Regions from separate parts of the Homo sapiens genome. Here region 1 is linked to region 2. The links come from fine-mapping of genetic effects on gene expression. Tissue or cell type: lymphoblastoid cells. Region 2 holds a variant in brackets; the other region holds the start of a gene. All regions are shown on one strand. Distances are between the middles of the regions.

Region 1 (8,107 bases), 510 kb before region 2:
CTGAGTAGCTGGGATTACTGGTGCCTGCCACCATCCTTGGCTAATTTCTGTATTTTTAGTAGAGAGAGGGTTTCACCAAGTTGGCCAGGCTGGTCTCGAACTGCTGTCCTCATTTGATCTGCCCGCCTCAGCCTCCCAAAGGGCTGGGATTACAGGTGTGAGCCACCATGCCTGGCCTAAATCCTGTTAGTTTTGAATGGAAATTTTCTTTCTTTCTTTTTTTTTTTTCTGGGACAGATTCTTGCTTCGAGACAATGACAAATACAAACTAGGTTTACTGTAAATATGAGAAAGGGAAAAAATACTTTTATTGTATTAGAAGACTTGAAATCACATGAAGTGATACCAATCTTTTGTTGTTGTTGGTCAGATGTTTTAGCTATTTTAGGTGTTTGGGTTTTTTGTCTTTCTACATAACTGCTAACCTTGTTAGTATCTGCAGAATGCCTTAATTAGGAAAGGTATTAACCCTATGTGTCAGATTTGTATAATTCATATTGCTTTACATGGAGTCTTCCAATAAATGTATATGGTATATGTCTCTATTTGCTGTCTTTGATTTCTTTTATCAGCATTTGGTAGTTGTAACATAACAGTTCTATGAATGTTTTGTTTCACATGTATTTCTTTGCCCCCCCCCTTTTTTTTTTTTTTTTTTTGAGACGGAGTCTTGCTCTGTCGCCCAGGCTGGAGTGCAGTGGCGCGATCTCAGCTCACTGCAAGCTCCGCCTCCTGAGTTCACGCCATTCTCCTGCCTCGGCCTCCCCAGTAGCTGGGACTACAGGCACCCGCCACCACACCTGGCTAATTTTTTTGTATTTTCTTAGTAGAGATGGGGTTTCACCGTGTTAGCCAGGATAGTCTCGATCTCCTGACCTCGTAGTCCACCTGCCTTGGCCTCCCAAAGTGCTGGGATTACAGGTGTAAGCCACTGCACCCGGCCTCTTTGACCTTTTTCTTAATGGAGCAATCATACATAGTATTTTATTTTTAATATCAGGTTTCATGTGCAAATTGCTAGTGTATAGAAATATACAAGATTATTATTATTATTATTTTGAGACAGGGCCTTACTCTGTCATCCTGGCTGGAGTGCAGTGGAGCAATCTCAGCTACTGCAACCTGTGTCCTGCAGGCTTAAGTCATCCTCCCACCTCAGCTTCCCCAGTAGCTGGCACTGCAGGCATGTGCCACCATGGCCTGTTAAATTTTTGTGTTTTGTAGAGATGGGGTTTCACCATGTTACCCAGCCTGGTCTCAAACTCCTGAGCTTGAGTGATCTGCCTGCCTTGGCCTCCCAAAGTGCTGGGATTACAGGCACGAGCCACCATGCCTGGCTGATGAAATATACGATATTTTTGTAGGTTGACCTTATACTTTGCTACCTTTACATTTTTCTTGTTCTAGAGATTTTTGTAGATTTTTTTGGAATTTTCTACATAAAATCATTTCATCAGTTTCCTATTGCTATACACAGTGATTGGCTTAAAACAAGAAAAATTTATTCTTTTATAATTCTGTAAGTCACATATCTAATATGGGTCCATAGTTCTGTGATTCTTCATTAATCTCCAGGGGAGAATTTGTTTCCTTACCCTTTGTAGGTTCCAGAGGCCACTTACATCCTTTGACTCATGGTCCACTTCCTCCATCTTTAAAGGTGAGAAAAAAAATCTCTTTATCCCTCTATTTTCAACACATCACCACTGTCTCTGTCCCTTCGCATCCACCTGCACCCTTCTGATATTGAACCTTGTGATTCTATCACTTTGACCATATAATTCAGGATGTCTATCTAAAGATCCTTATCTAGACCACATTTGCAAACTCCCTTTTGATATATCCAGTAACACAGGTCATAGGGATGTAGCTACCTTCCTTTGGGAAAGGTATTAGCCTGCACAACCAACATATTTTCTGTTGGTACACTATTTTTTTTGTCCTGTCCTCAGGCCACCCTCCTTCCTCAGCCTCCCAAAGCACTGTGATTACAGGCCTCAGACACCACACCCAGCCTGTCACTTTTATTTCTTTTTCCTTTATTTCACTGGCTGGAACCTTTCATATTGTGTGGAATAGTAGTGATAAGAGGGGACATTCTTGCCCTCATCCCAACCTCTAGGGGAAACTATGCTTTCACCAGTTTGTATGATGATTCTGATTCTGTAAGGATTGGTAGGTGATCTTGAGTTGAGGAAGTTTCCCATGATACTGCTTTCCATACTGACCGCAGTATTTCAGATTCCCACAAAATGTACGAAAATAGTTTCTCCACATCCTTGCTTGTGAAGCAGGTTCACTGCACACTGGTTGCCAATGTGTCTGAGTTGAGTGAGAGATAATCTCACGGACACACAGTAAGTTACATGAAGTGAATTTGTTACATACAGATCGGCAGATACCTGGGATTCATGCATTCTGCTCCCCAAGGCTCAGGAAAACCACCCAGTGCAGATGCAGTCTCTCTGTATGTGTTCAACTTGCATCACAGCTGTGGGAGGCTGGAAGGCGGCCCATCCTGGGTTTCATGCTCCAGGGATGCATGGCACGTTGGCCTAAAGCAACAAAGGGGATCCTGTTCTGGGGATCTGGAACACATCCTGTCCTTTTCTCACCGGTCCCTTCCTCTCAGGATGTTGCTTTTCCAGCACATTCTATATTCATTCTTGGGAACTACAAGTGAGAAGTCAGATGCAACTGGGCCAATTCAACCCCACTTGAATGCTGTCCTGCAGTCTCTCCGCCAATCCAGATATCCCTTTTATTTTTATATTTTTTGAGACGGAGTCTCGCTCTGTCTCCCAGGCTGGAGTGCAGTGGCGCAATCTTGGCTTACTGCACCTCCACCTCCCAGATTCAAGCAATTCTTGTGTCTCAGCCTCTCGAGTAGCTGGGACTACAGGCGTGTGCCACCATGCCTGGCTAATTTTTTTTTTTTTTTTTTTTGTATTTTTAGTAGAGACTTCGTTTCACCATGTTAACCAGGCTGGTCTCTAATTCCCGACCTCAGGTGATCTGCCCTCCTCGGCCTCCCAAAGTATTGGGATTACAGGCGTGAGCCACCACGCCTGGCCCAGATATCCCCTTTAATAAAGCTAGTCCATTTACATGTGCACTGACCTCCCTGGATCTGGAGGTAGAGGCTGGTCTCAGGAGATTGAAGTAATACCTCGACTGGCAGAATCTCAGGGCAACATCATTGAGGTACAGCCAGTTGCATTTCACTAGGCTCAAGAGGATTGCTGCCTCAAGCAGGATAACCAGGCCTGCCTGGAGCAGTGCCGTAGTCCAGGATCCCAGTGACCTAGGTGAGAAGTTGGTACTCAGATCAAAGAAAAGTTCTTCAGGTGACCCCACTGTCTGCAGCCAATGGGCCTGCTTGTGGGCCTTATGTATTTGTGTTTCAAAAATAACCTGAGGGCTTGATGTGGGGGTCCTTATCTCCCATGCAAGGTGATTCATGCCTATAATCCGAGCACTTTGGTAGGAGCAGATGGGAAGACTGCTTGAGGCTAGAAGCTGGAGACCAGCCTGGGCAACAAAACCAGACTACATCTCTATTAAAAACAAAGCAACAAACAGTAGAAAATTAGCACAGTGGAGAGGCACAGGCCTTTACTCACAGCTACTCGGCAGGCTGAGACAGGGGGTCACCTGCCCAGGACCCCAGGAAGTCAAGGTTGCAGTGAGCTATGATTGCGCCACTGCATTTCAGCCTCGGTGGCAGAGACCCTGTCTTAAAATTTTAAAAAGTATTAAAAAACTAAGTTGGACCGGGCGTGGTGGCTACTCTGGAGGCTGGGGCAAGAGAATCACTTGAACCCAGGAGGCGGAGGTTACAGTGAGCTGAGTGCCTGCCACTGTACTCCCGCCTGGGGGACAGAGGGAGACGCTGTCTCAAAACAACAACAACAACAAAAAACTACGTCGTTTATGGCTATTTTTATAAGTTACTGGCTTTTTTTTTTTAAAGAATCGGTGACTTATCTTCACACTGGCCTTAGTCCTCCATGCCCAACACGATGTCCCTAGGAAAGTCTCTGGAATTGAGCACAGGGTTGACCTTCACCGTCTAGAGTGAATGGGGAAGATAAATGAAAAGTATTTATCTTCTATGGGCACTGGCATGAAATAGAACATTCTACCCTGGCAGGGTTTTGCATTTCACATTTTAGCTTGCATCATCCCCTTCACAGACAATTCCAAAGTGTGTTAATTCAATTCCTAAAGCTTCCCTTCCCTTCCTCCCTTCCCTTCCCTCCTTACTTTTCTTTCTTGTCCATTTATTTTCGGTTTTTTTCTCTTTCTTTCTTGGTTTTCTTTCTCTTTTTCAACTTCTCTTTCTTTTCTCTTTCTCTTTACTCTCTCTCTTCTCTCTCTTTCTGCTTCCAGGGTAGGTGGGACTTGAAATTCATTTTAATAGAAGGAATTTTCGTGGATATAATCTACAACCGATTTTGCTCTGCGCAGGTAAGATCCGTTTTCAGACCAAAACCCTGAAAACAAGCGCAGCCAGTCAAGCGAACGGAAGCGCAGGCCCGGCCCAGGCTTTGTCCCGGCCCGCCCTGGTCCCAGCCAGTCCGGCCTCTAGGATGCGCGCGCAATTTCGTGCAAACCCGGAAGCGGACCGCGGGGGGCGAACGCCTAGAGCGCAGTTTCCGGTAGACCCGGAAGCCGATTGCAGGGAGAAACTGTTTTCGCAGCAGTGCGTGAGTTTCCCTTTGTCTATGTTAAGTCTAGGCTAGCCAGTTCTTCTCTGCTTCTATACCCGGGAGCTGAGGGGCATGCAGACCTTGAAATCCCGGCACCGCTCCCTCCACCCCGAGTAAATTCAGACATCCTTTGAGAGTCTGGGAGTCGCTTTCTGCGTGTTAAAATCGCTTGGAGGCTGGTCGTGTGCCCGGTCTTTTTGTCATTTACCCACGTAGACACCTCCTATCGTGGGGTTTACCTGCTTCAAATCCTTTAGTAACCCCTACACACGCCCCGCACCACGTAAAATCCTCACTCTCCGTTCCCCTAGCCTCGCCCTTCTTTGCCCCTAGAGCTCAGCGCCCCAACAGGGCACGAGAGGCCTCGTCCTCTGCCCAGACCTGGTTTCTGCAGACTCCACCCCTCTCCTGACCCACTCCTGCCTTTTTGCTCCTTAATCTGGACCCTCTGTTCCCCAGGCCTCCCTTTTCCAGCCACCGGTTCTCCTGACCCCGAGTGTGGGGGGTGACTTCAGTCTCCTGACATCCAGTGTTCTCTCGAGCCAGTTTCCAGCCCACAGAAAATGAGCTCTTCCGGAAGTGGGCATCTTATTCCAATCCCCTCCCTGTGAATGTGTGGAGAAAAAGAGATGGGAACGAGGCAGAGGAAATAGAGAAATTTTGAAAGAGAAATGAAGAATGAGAGACCCATTAACAGAAGGCAAAGTAGAAGGTGAGTGAGGGGTTTGCAGAGGCACAGTGAAAGAAGGTGCCGAGAAAATAGCAGGGGAGAAAAGTAACTGTAAAAATATAGACAAACCTGGGTCTGTAGAAAGACGAAATTCAACAAGATAGGGAAGGCTTCTCAGACAGAGGGGGGAGAGGAGGAGGGATTTGGAGCCAGGTCAGACAGAGCAGCGTGGTGCTGGGACAGCCAGAGGGGGCAGCTGGTCACAAGGAGAACAGGGAGAACCACAGCAGGGGGAGGCCTGGGATCTAAGGGTGCCAGAGAGTGGGGACAGGGGTGTGTAATATCGAAGATGGAATTTAACAGGGAGACCCCAAGGGGAGCTGAGATGTGGGAGGAAAGAGGCAGAAATATATGGAGATTAGGGACAATGAAAGATTGGGCAGAAAGAGGAATAAGAGGTGAAACAAGTTGTAAAAATGGATCAGAACAGGTGGGAGAGAAGGAATAGAGGGAAGAATGGGACAAAGAGAAGAGGAGGGACTCAAAATGAACAGAATCCTAGGGGAAAATAGAGAAAAAAAGAGCTAGGAAAAAAGATGAGAATGAGAGATATGTACAGAATGAGGCAGGGAAACAGTAGTGAGGAAAGAGGGGGACCCTGGTTACAGATGAGTGGTGAGTTGATTGGAAATTATGATTGAATTGTGACATATTAATTTTTCTATAATATAAAATTTGTTTAGAACACATGAGGCTAGGAGCTGTGGCTCACACGTGTAATCCCAGTACTTTGGGAAGCTGAGGTGAGCGGATCACTTGAGGTCAGGAGTTGAGACCAGCCTGGCCAACATGTGAAACCCATCTCTAGTAAAAATACAAAAATTAGCTGGGCCTGATGGCCTGCGCCTGTAATCCCAGCTACTCTGGAGGCTGAGGCAGGAGAATCGCTTAATCCTGGGAGGCAGAGGTTGCAGTGAGCCGAGATCGTGTCACTGCACTCCAGGTTAGGTGACAGAGCAAGACTCCATCTCAAAAAACAAAAAACAAAAAACCACACATGAAGATGAGAATTGGAACACTATTTATAAGGCACTCTTCTCTTTTCTTGGGATGGACTAGGGTGTGAGTGTATAAGTTAGGAAAAACCAGTGTGTTTTTGTGTTCACAGTGAACACAATAAAGAGCGCTCAACACAGAATGCCTCATCTCTGGTCACCAAAGTAATATGGGAATTACTTGTCACCAACAAGCAGTTCTTCGTCAGACAGCACCTGGGTGTTCTGTAATTTTACTCAGTTTAACTGGTCAGTGTAGGAACAACCACAGACACATTTTGATCACTAAAGGTGAGGGATTCTCCTTTGGGTGTGAGAGTAGTAAAAACAGTGTGGTTTTTTCCTGTCTCAAACAGTAAGGGGAAGAATTTTCCAACAGGCCCACTCACCTGTCTCTAGGACTGTGTTCTTAGTAGTGACTGGGAATTGTCTGTCCCTGCTCCTGGCTGCTGCTGATGCTGAGACTGTGTGCCACAGGCCAGCCCCATTCACTCTCTCCTGATGCCACGGCATCCCTCCTCCACAGTGTCATCAGATTTTACTTCAAGGGAATTATTTTGGTCAGCATACCCAGATGGAGTTGTTGCCCATTAAAACACACACACACACACACACACACACACACACACACACGCCTTTATTTTTTCCACTATTTCATCCTCAGAAGAAAAAACAAAGTATTAGCTACATTTTTACTTGCAATAAGTATGCCTTTTCTGTGCTCCATGTAAGAGCACAATATACCAAAATCTTGTTTAGGCGCTCTCTCACTCTTTCCTCCATTTCTTGCTTGACCCCATCCAATCAGGTTTTGACACCAACCATTCCACTGCTCCTTTTTTTATCTGAGTCACCAGTGACTTCTCTGTTTCTAAATCTAGTTATTTATTTATTCATTTAATTTTTAGAGACAAGGTCTTGCTCTGTCACCCAAGCTGGCATGCAGTGGCACAGTCATAGTTCACCATAACCTCAAACCCCTAGACTCCAGCAATCCTCCCGTCTTAGCCTCCAGAGTAGATAGGACTATGGGCCTGTCCCTCTGCGTGGCTGATTGAAAAAAAAATTTTTTTTTTTGAGACAAAGTCTCACTACATTGCCCAGGCTGGTCTTGAACTCCTGACTTCTAGCCATCCTCCTACAAAGAAGTCCCAGCATGCTGGGATTAGAGGCATGAGCCCTTTACCCTGCTTAAATCTGACTTTGAATTTTCTGTCCTCCTGTCTTTTTCTGTCAGCAGCATGTTTCACAGCTGATCACTCTTTTTTTTCGCAGCTTTGAAGACATTGCTTGTATTTTTAAAAATCTGTTTAAAATTTTTCTCATTACTTTCGTATCTTATCAGTTTCCTCTGCTGCTGTCTCCTGAAGTGTCTTCTCTGAATATGGAAATGTCACCCAATTTAGTCCTTAAACCTGTTCTGTCTGCCCACACCCTCAGCTTTTCCTTTTGATCTCATCTATGGTTTTAAACACCACCAACATGTCTCCATTTTCCCTCTTCACCCACCCCTCTCCCCTGAATTCCAAAATCCTGTGTCCAGTCATGTTCTCGACATCTCTGCTGGGACATCCACAGGCATCTCCACCTCCACGTGTCCAAAATAGGCTTCCTGAACTCCCCCAGACATGTTCTCCCTACAGTCCTGCATAGCTCAGATGACAGACACC
Region 2 (8,107 bases):
CAAGAACAGTCAAGGCTTGACCGGTTTTATTAGTAATAATTTTTAAAACAGCTTGCAACTGTATGATTCGGTTGAGCATGTAGATGGGGGTTCGATAACCTCATGAGCTGTCTTGTGTCTAAGTGGCAGGCTTACAGTATTATATAATTCTTTAGGAGGTCATTTATCATCTTTCTAATTACCTATGGCTATGCTTCGTTTTTCACAGGAAGCATAGACTGGGAAGCCTAGAAGTTCACCTGTATTTATGGGCAGTAAGAGGAAAGATGGCTTACTGGTGCCAATTACACAGCTACCTGTCCACTGATCAGGCAGCTTAGCATGAGCTCTGTCTATGTATCTGGTATAACCTGGTGGGGGCCGTCTAGTCCTGGTGGAATTCCGGGTGGGCCTCAACAGTCTGCAACTTTGGAAATTTACTGAATGGATTTCTTTTTGTGTAACTGGAACTTTAGTATGTAACTGTTTTTGTGGTACTATTATACAACTTTTGCCTAAGACAACTAAGCCGCCTTACAGGATGATGAGTGAATTTTTTTCTTTCTCTAGCTATGCAATACCGTCTAATAATTGAGACTTTTAGAACTTAAAAATTGTCAGGGTGGTTCTTTTGGGCTGGGAATTCATCAGGAACTGGGTTTGTAGGAACTAATTCTCGGGCTTCCTATGGCCATTGATCTCTTGTTACAGTTCTTCTACAAACATAACATGAGGTGACTTGTAGAGACTGGGCCTCATGTTAGGCTAATTGCAAAAACAAATTTTTAGTTTTTCCTGGAATCTTAGGTACTGGCACATTTATTTCATCATAGAAAGCCTGAAATACTGGTTCTGGAGAGCATTTTTCAACTTCTTTTTTTATTAGGATGTTTACGCTAGGATCTAGTTTTTTTTCATCAATGCTTAATTTACATTTTTTTTTTAATTGTACTTTGGGTCTGATGGGTTTGTGATTATCAATTTTAAAAGGCTGCAGCCCCCACTCATGCAAGAGGGGCTGACTTTTCTTTTTTGGAGCTAAACAGGATTATTTTTATCTTCTTTTTAAGTAGCCCAAATGACATAAGACTAGTATTGACACATCTCACATAAATATGATTCTTGACAGATATACTTATTTTTTTTTTTAACTGTGTAACTTTTTTTCTAATTTAGAGAACTGCATCTTATTCTATGCTGCTTACTATCAATAGTGGCACAAGCATCAAATTTTAAGGTTATATTTTTGGGGACCCCTCTTCTGTTCTAGCTATTATTTTACTTGTGTCACTTAGAAAAAGACTAGTCTTTAATTTTATTTTAAAAACTGTAATCATGGGAGGCTTAAAATGGGTTATAACACACATCAGGTTGGTTATTCCTTGGGCTACATACTTTGGATAGAATAGCATTATACAAACAAATTTCTTTTAGAATCCTGGTACACTTATAATAACTATAAAATAATAGGACTGTAGCAATCTTTTGTCTAACTTCAGTGACTTGATGTAGATACTGGAAACAGTTCTTTGTCTGAGGAAGGTCAGTTGAAGTCCTTACTGTACAAGTCTAAATTTTAAGGAAAATGAGTCCTGCGATGAGTTTCTTCCTGCTTCAGTCGTGCGTGGACCAGTCAGCTTCCGGGTGTGACTGCAGCAGGGCTTGTCATCTTCTTCAGAGTCACTTTGCAGGGGTTGGCGAAGCTGCTCTTATCTACGTACAGCTCCTAGTCTACTGATGTTTAAGGGTGGTCTCAGAGGTTGGGCCCACTAGAATAAACTGAGTCCAGCACCTCTAAACAGTTATGTTTAACTGGGCTCTTTGATACTAGGAGTAAGGTGGCGGGGTTAGGGTGTTGCAAACTTCAATGGTTATGTGGGGATTTTCACAGAGCAAGCTTTGGTATCTAGTTAGTCTAGCGTTTATTAGCTAATGATGTCTTTTGTTATTTATTAAAGGGACTTTATGTTTATGTTTTGCCTAAGAGTTAGCTTATCTGCTTCTTGTGCTAACAGGGCCATTGCTGCCAGGGCCCTTGGACATGGGGGCCAGCCTTGGGAAACCTCGTCTAGTTGTTTTGAGAGTCAGGCTACTGGCCTTGGCCAGGGCCTTACAGTCTGGGTTAAAACTTCAACTGCCATTTTTTTTTTTCTTTCTGACACATAGAGTGCAAAGAGTTTTGTCAGGTCAGGTAGCCTCAGGGCTGGGGCTGACATGAGTTTTTCTTTTTTTTTTTTCTGGTTGATGAAATACCAGGGTGAAATGGACTAAACCATAAGTGCCACTCTAGTTATTCGGCAGAGTGCCTACTAAAGGTCTACTACAATACCACCACACATCTGCTCAGAGATGAACAAGGGCTGACCGATTGATAAGCTCTTGAAAATTCTTAAGCTCACTGCATCCTTTCAGGTCTCCAAGGAATGCTAAATCTCCTCTCTGCCGTGAGATACAAGAAGTGAACTTAGTATTGGGAGACGGAAGCTGGAAGGCCCTCGGGGGCTGATCCGCAGGGACTTCGGGATATAGCAGAGAGAGCTATATGTTACTCCAGGCTGTAGAATCCTGGAAAAGAGCTACCATGCAGCCCACACCTGGTCAACTACAGGACCACCTTAGTGGAAGGGGGACAATCAGGGCCTCTGGCCTGCCATGTGCACAAGCATAACAATTGCTTTTGTTTAATGTGCAGATGGAATATTTGATCTATTTCAACCAGGCATTTGCATCTTGGTATGCTGTCTCAATTGCCAAAGTTTGTTTTAAGTCTTTAACTTCTATCATCCTCTAGTAAAATGAATGCTTCCTTTAGCACCGATTTTTATTAGTTTTTAGACCAAAGAAAGCTGAACACCATTTTATATTTAATAATGCTTCTTGTATGATTTTTATACCAGATAAGCTAAATTTTACTTTTATATTAGTGTGTTACTAATGTTAAATTTAATTTTAATGAAACTTTGTAGACATATTTATCTAATTTTTCATGTTTGACCATAAGGTTAGATTTTGTAGACTCTTTTTAACTTTTTGTAATTTTTGTTAAAGAGCAGGTTGATGCTTTAAGAAAAAACCTGTTGCATTTTTACTTTGATGTCCGTTTCACAGAAAAACTGGATGATACCTTTTTAACTTTAGCTAATATGTTTACACACAGAATTTTCTTTACAATTAATGTTTTAAAACTTGCTTAAACTTTCAAACAATAATTTTTTTAACTTTTTAATATAGGTAAAAATCCACATTCTTATGCCTCCTTATAATCTTTTTACTATAGGTATATTTTACTTTTCTTATACACCTTGTACATAAACTGTTTCTTCAATAATAGGAGGCCTTATTACTTTTAAATTATACATTTTTTGCATAAAAAA[A/T]TTTTTTAAAGCAAACTTTATGTCTTTGGACTAGACTGTCTAAGGCTACCAGATTAGAAGTTACTATAATACATGCTACGCTGTTAACTTTTAGCAAACTTCACTTTTGTTGAAAACCTTGTAAGTTTGGGACTTCAATTATCCTTTGCTATTAATAAGACCTTGTTTAGTCTAAATTAACTTAGAATTGGTATAGATGGCCTCTTTTTCTCTCTGCTGGTCTTTTCTTGCCTCTGCCAGCCACTTATGCTGCTGTTCTTTTAACTACTGTGGGGGGCGGGGGGAGGAGGTCTAAAACCAGGTGTAACTGTCTGTGTACTGAAACTGGTCTGGGTGCCTTGGCTTACAGGTTACCTTGTGCCATATCTTTGAAACTAGGGACCCATCCAGGCTTCCTTCTGATGGCTAACCTACCTCAAATGCTGGCCAGTCTATTTCACACAAAGTTCTAAGTTTTCCTGGGGTCACAGTTACACCATAATCTCCTTTAAATTCTTTCTTGAAATTCTTTAACATATTTCTTAGTGGGGTGGGCTTACTTTGTGCCTGAACTATGTTTTTTTTTTCTTCTGAGACAAAATGCCATGCTCACACCACACATACTCACCACAAGAATGGGTAAAGAGGGCACACACACGCACTTTTACCGTTTATACCAAACCAAAATCATGAAATTCAAAATCTGAGTACTAAAAAATTCAAGCCAAGTCAAAACCAAAACTAAAGTATCTAACAATTCAAATCAAGTCAAAACCAGAACAAAAGTGCCAATGCAGGCATGCTGTGGGTGATCAGGCCACGCTTCCACTCAGATGGAGTGGGGCAAGTTCCAAAGACTAGTCTTACTAAGTAAAGCCAAGTCAAAACCAGGACAAAAGTGCCAATACAGGCATGCTGTGGGTGATCAGGCCACGCTTCCACTCAGGTGGAGTGGGGCAAGTTCCAAAGATTAGTCTTACCAAGTTTCAGATGTCTGGACTCCAAGTGCCAGTTCCTTCCTGGTGTTCAGCCACTGCGTTAATCCTCCGTGGGGGCCTGCTATGCACCGCTCTGGCGAGGCATTCCATTGGGGCAATTTCCTACCCAGGAGCGCTCTTTGGATCGTGTCACTCAGGCTGGCCAGAGTCCCCCGCGGGGATGCTCCACAGGGCAGGCCTAAGCCACCTAAAGGGCTGCCTCGGCCATCCATCAGTTACCTCATTTTCAGGTCAGGGAACCAAGAAAAGTAGCAGGATGAGCCTCAGACAAAACCTCTCAGACACTGAGTTGCAGAAGGAAGGGCTTTATTCAGCTGGGAGCATCGGCAAGCTACTGCCTTAAAATCTGAGCTCCCCTAATGCACAATTTCTGTCCTTTTTAAGGGCTCACAACACTAAGGATTTCACATGAAACGGTCGTGATTGATTTGAGCAAGCAGTGGGTATGTGACAGGGGCTGCATGCACCGGTGTTCAGAGTGGAAAAGAACAGAGCAGGGAGTTTCACAATGTTCTTCTATACAATGTCTGGAATCTATGAATAACATCAGTTTCTAAGTTATGAGTTGATTTTTAACTACTGGGTTTAGGCCAGGCAGGCCCAGGCCTGGTTTCAGGCCTGGCGCCGGGCTGCCTGTCTTTGATTTCACTTCCTTGTTTTTTTCCTAAAACAGGTACTGAGTATAAAACAATATAAAACAATATGAGAGGGTCTCTCTCTTCCCTCAAAACTACTAAATAAATTCAGTGGATTTGCACAATACAATATCGGCACCAAAAATTACTTGAATTTCCACACATTAACAATAAACAATTTTAAAAGAAAATTTAAAAACACTTCCATTTGCTAGAGAACTTAAAGTAAGAAATACTTAGGAATAAACGTACAAAGCTGAGAAGTTTGTACCTTGAAATCTATAAATGTTGATCAAAATGATTAAAAACATACATAGAGATACAACCCATATTGATAGTTTGGAAAAATTAATATTGTTAAGTAATTATATAACCCAATGTGATTTAGATTCAACACGGTACCCATAAAAATGCCTATCAGTTGACATTCCACCACAAAAGAAGTGAAATTGGCTGGTCCCTGCCTTAACTGATGACATTACCTTGTGAAATTCCTTCTCCTGGCTCATCCTGGCTCAAAAACTCCCCCACTGAGCACCTTGTGACCCCCACCTCTGCCAGCCAGAGAACAACCCCCTTTGATTGTAACTTTCCACTACCTACCCAAATCCTATAAAACGGCCCCACCCCATCTCCCTTCCCTGACTCTCTTTTCGGACTCAGCTTGCCTGCACCCAGGTGATTAAAAAAAAAAAAAATCTGTATCTGTTTTTGTTAAAGAAACAAAAAACAGGCTGGGAAAAGTGGCTCACGCCTGTTGGCCACACTAGTCTCAAACTCCTGACCTCAAGAGATCCACCCACCTTGGCCTCCCACAGTGCTAGCATTACAGGTGTGAGCCACCGCACTCAGCCTAATCCTCTTAACATAAACACTTTAATGTCAATTAATGCTTGAACTCAACGTTAAGTCAACTCAAACTCAAGTCAATGCTGAACTGACTCTAGTGTCAATTAATGCTTGATGGTTTGCTATACTCATTGCATTCGGAACTATTATCTCAAAAATAAATTTTCTGATATTCTGCAAGGAGTGATCTCAGACTGAAGACCTTGCCACACTGATGACATTTGTAAGATTTCTGTCCAGTATGGATTCTTTGATGTCTAATGAGGTGTGAACGTGAAGTAAAGGCTTTGCTCACAATCATCACACTTGTGAGGTTTCTCTCCTGTATGAATTCTCCTGTTTTGCATAGGATGAAGCTTGACTGAAGACCTTGCCTCAATCATGACATTTGTAAGGTTTCTCTCCAGTATGAGTTCACCCATGAACTACAGCGTATGAACGATGTCTGAAAAATTTGCCACATTTACTACACTTGTAAGATCTCTATTCATTATGGATTCTTCAATGATTTGCAATGGTTGTAGCGTTACTGAAGACTTGGTGACAATCATTACATTAGTCAAGTTTCCCTACACCATGGATTGCCTGATGGTGAATAAGTGTTGACTGTGCACGAAAGGCTTTGCCACACTCACTACACTTGAAAGGTTTCTCTCCAGTATGAATTCTAGTATGTTGTGCCAGGTGTGAGTAACACTTGAAAGCCTTGTCACAAACCTTACATTTGTATGGTTTCTCTCCAGTGTGAACTCTCTGATGTTGTGCAAGGTATGAATCACGCCCAAAAGCCTTGTCGCAAACCCTACATTTGTATGGTTTCTCTCCAGTATGAACTCTCCTATGTATTTCAAGGTGTGATTTGATATTGAAAACTTTGTCACATTCTTCACATTTGTAAGGTTTCTCTCCAGTATGAAGTCTATGATGACATGCAAGTTGTGACTGTGTCCTAAAAACCTTGCCACATTCATTACACTTGTAAGGTTTCTCTCCAGTATGAAGTCTATGATGATATGCAAGGCTTGATTTGTGATTAAAACTTTTGCCACATTCATTACACTTGTAACGTTTCTCTCCAGTATGAATGACCTTATGCATTACAAGAGATGAATTTTGAACGAAGGTCTTGCCACACTCATTACACTTGTAAGGTTTCTCTCCAGTGTGAATTACAGTATGTTGTGCCAGGTGTGAATCACGTCTGAAAGCCTTGTCACAAACCTTACATTTGTATGGTTTCTCACCAGTGTGAATTCTCCTATGTCTTTCAAGGTGTGATTTGCGACTGAAAACTTTGTCACATTCTTTACATTTGTAAGGTTTCTCTCCAGTATGAAGTCTATGATGACGTGCAAGGTTTGATTGTTGATTGAAAACCTTGCCACATTCATTACACTTGTAAGGTTTCTCTCCAGTATGAATTGTCTTGTGAACTAAGAGGGCTGAATTTTCACCAAACGTTTTGCCACACTCATTACACTTGTAAGGTTTCTCTCTAGTGTGAATTACAATATGCTGTGCCAGGTGTGAATCATGTCTGAAAGCCTTGTCACAAACCTTACATTTGTATGGTTTCTCACCAGTGTGAATTCTCCTATGTCTTTCAAGGTATGATTTGCGACTGAAAACTTTGTCACATTCTTTACATTGGTAAGGTTTCTCTCCAGTATGAACTCTATGATGACGTGCAAGGTTTGATTGTTGATTAAAAACCTTGCCACATTCATTACACTTGTAAGGTTTCTCTCCAGTATGAATTGTCTTGTGAACTAAGAGGGCTGACTTGTCACTGAACGTCTTGCCACACTCATTACACTTGTAAGGTTTTTCTCCAGTATGACGTCTATAATGACGTGCAAGGTATGCTTTTTTATTAAAAACCTTGCCACATTTATTACACATGTAAGGTTTCTCACCAGTGTGACATCTACGATGGTGTGCAAGGTATCGCTTCTGATTAAAGTCTTTGCCACATACATCACATTTATATTGTTTCTCTCCTAGATGAATTATCTGATGTTTTTTAAAGAGTGAGCTACAATTAAAGGATTTGCCACTCTCATTAAATTGGAAAGATTTTTCTTTCCTGTGTACATCCTGTTTCTGTGTGAGTAATGAAGAATGGAAGAAATTATTCCCATAGTTATTAGAAATATGGGTTTTGGGCCTACAAGAAATTCTTTGGGATGTTGAAACTGAGGAAGCATTGTTGATAGACTTCTCAAGTTGATTACCAATTTTCCCTTCGGGCTGAAATATGTGCAGTTCAGGCAGATGTGAATGAAAGCTTGAT

Evidence for each region. PIP is the estimated chance that this variant, and not a neighbour inherited with it, causes the effect.
Region 1: ZNF528 starts here. The variant in region 2 is fine-mapped to the expression of ZNF528 in lymphoblastoid cells (GTEx, PIP 0.97).

Annotation. Positions count from the first base shown.
Region 1 is chr19:52,393,196-52,401,302 of GRCh38, forward strand. It overlaps ZNF528 (zinc finger protein 528), which reads left to right and starts at 4,654. Exons shown (of 7, transcript NM_032423.3): 1 at 4,654-4,709; 2 at 5,172-5,424. It overlaps ZNF528-AS1 (ZNF528 antisense RNA 1), which reads right to left and starts at 4,562. Exons shown (of 7, transcript NR_125345.1): 1 at 4,267-4,562; 2 at 4,000-4,072; 3 at 3,415-3,557; 4 at 3,170-3,304; 5 at 2,403-2,555; 6 at 1,596-1,652. It also overlaps a transcript of ZNF880 not described here. RefSeq lists an enhancer at 3,966-5,165.
Region 2 is chr19:52,899,796-52,907,902 of GRCh38, forward strand. It overlaps ZNF888 (zinc finger protein 888), which reads right to left. Exons shown (of 5, transcript NM_001393938.1): 5 at 4,620-8,107. The coding sequence ends at 6,370. It also overlaps a transcript of ZNF320 not described here. Among named protein-coding and RNA genes, the nearest start is that of ZNF320, 6.2 kb to the left of the region's middle. The variant A/T (reference allele first, on the strand shown) is at 3,354.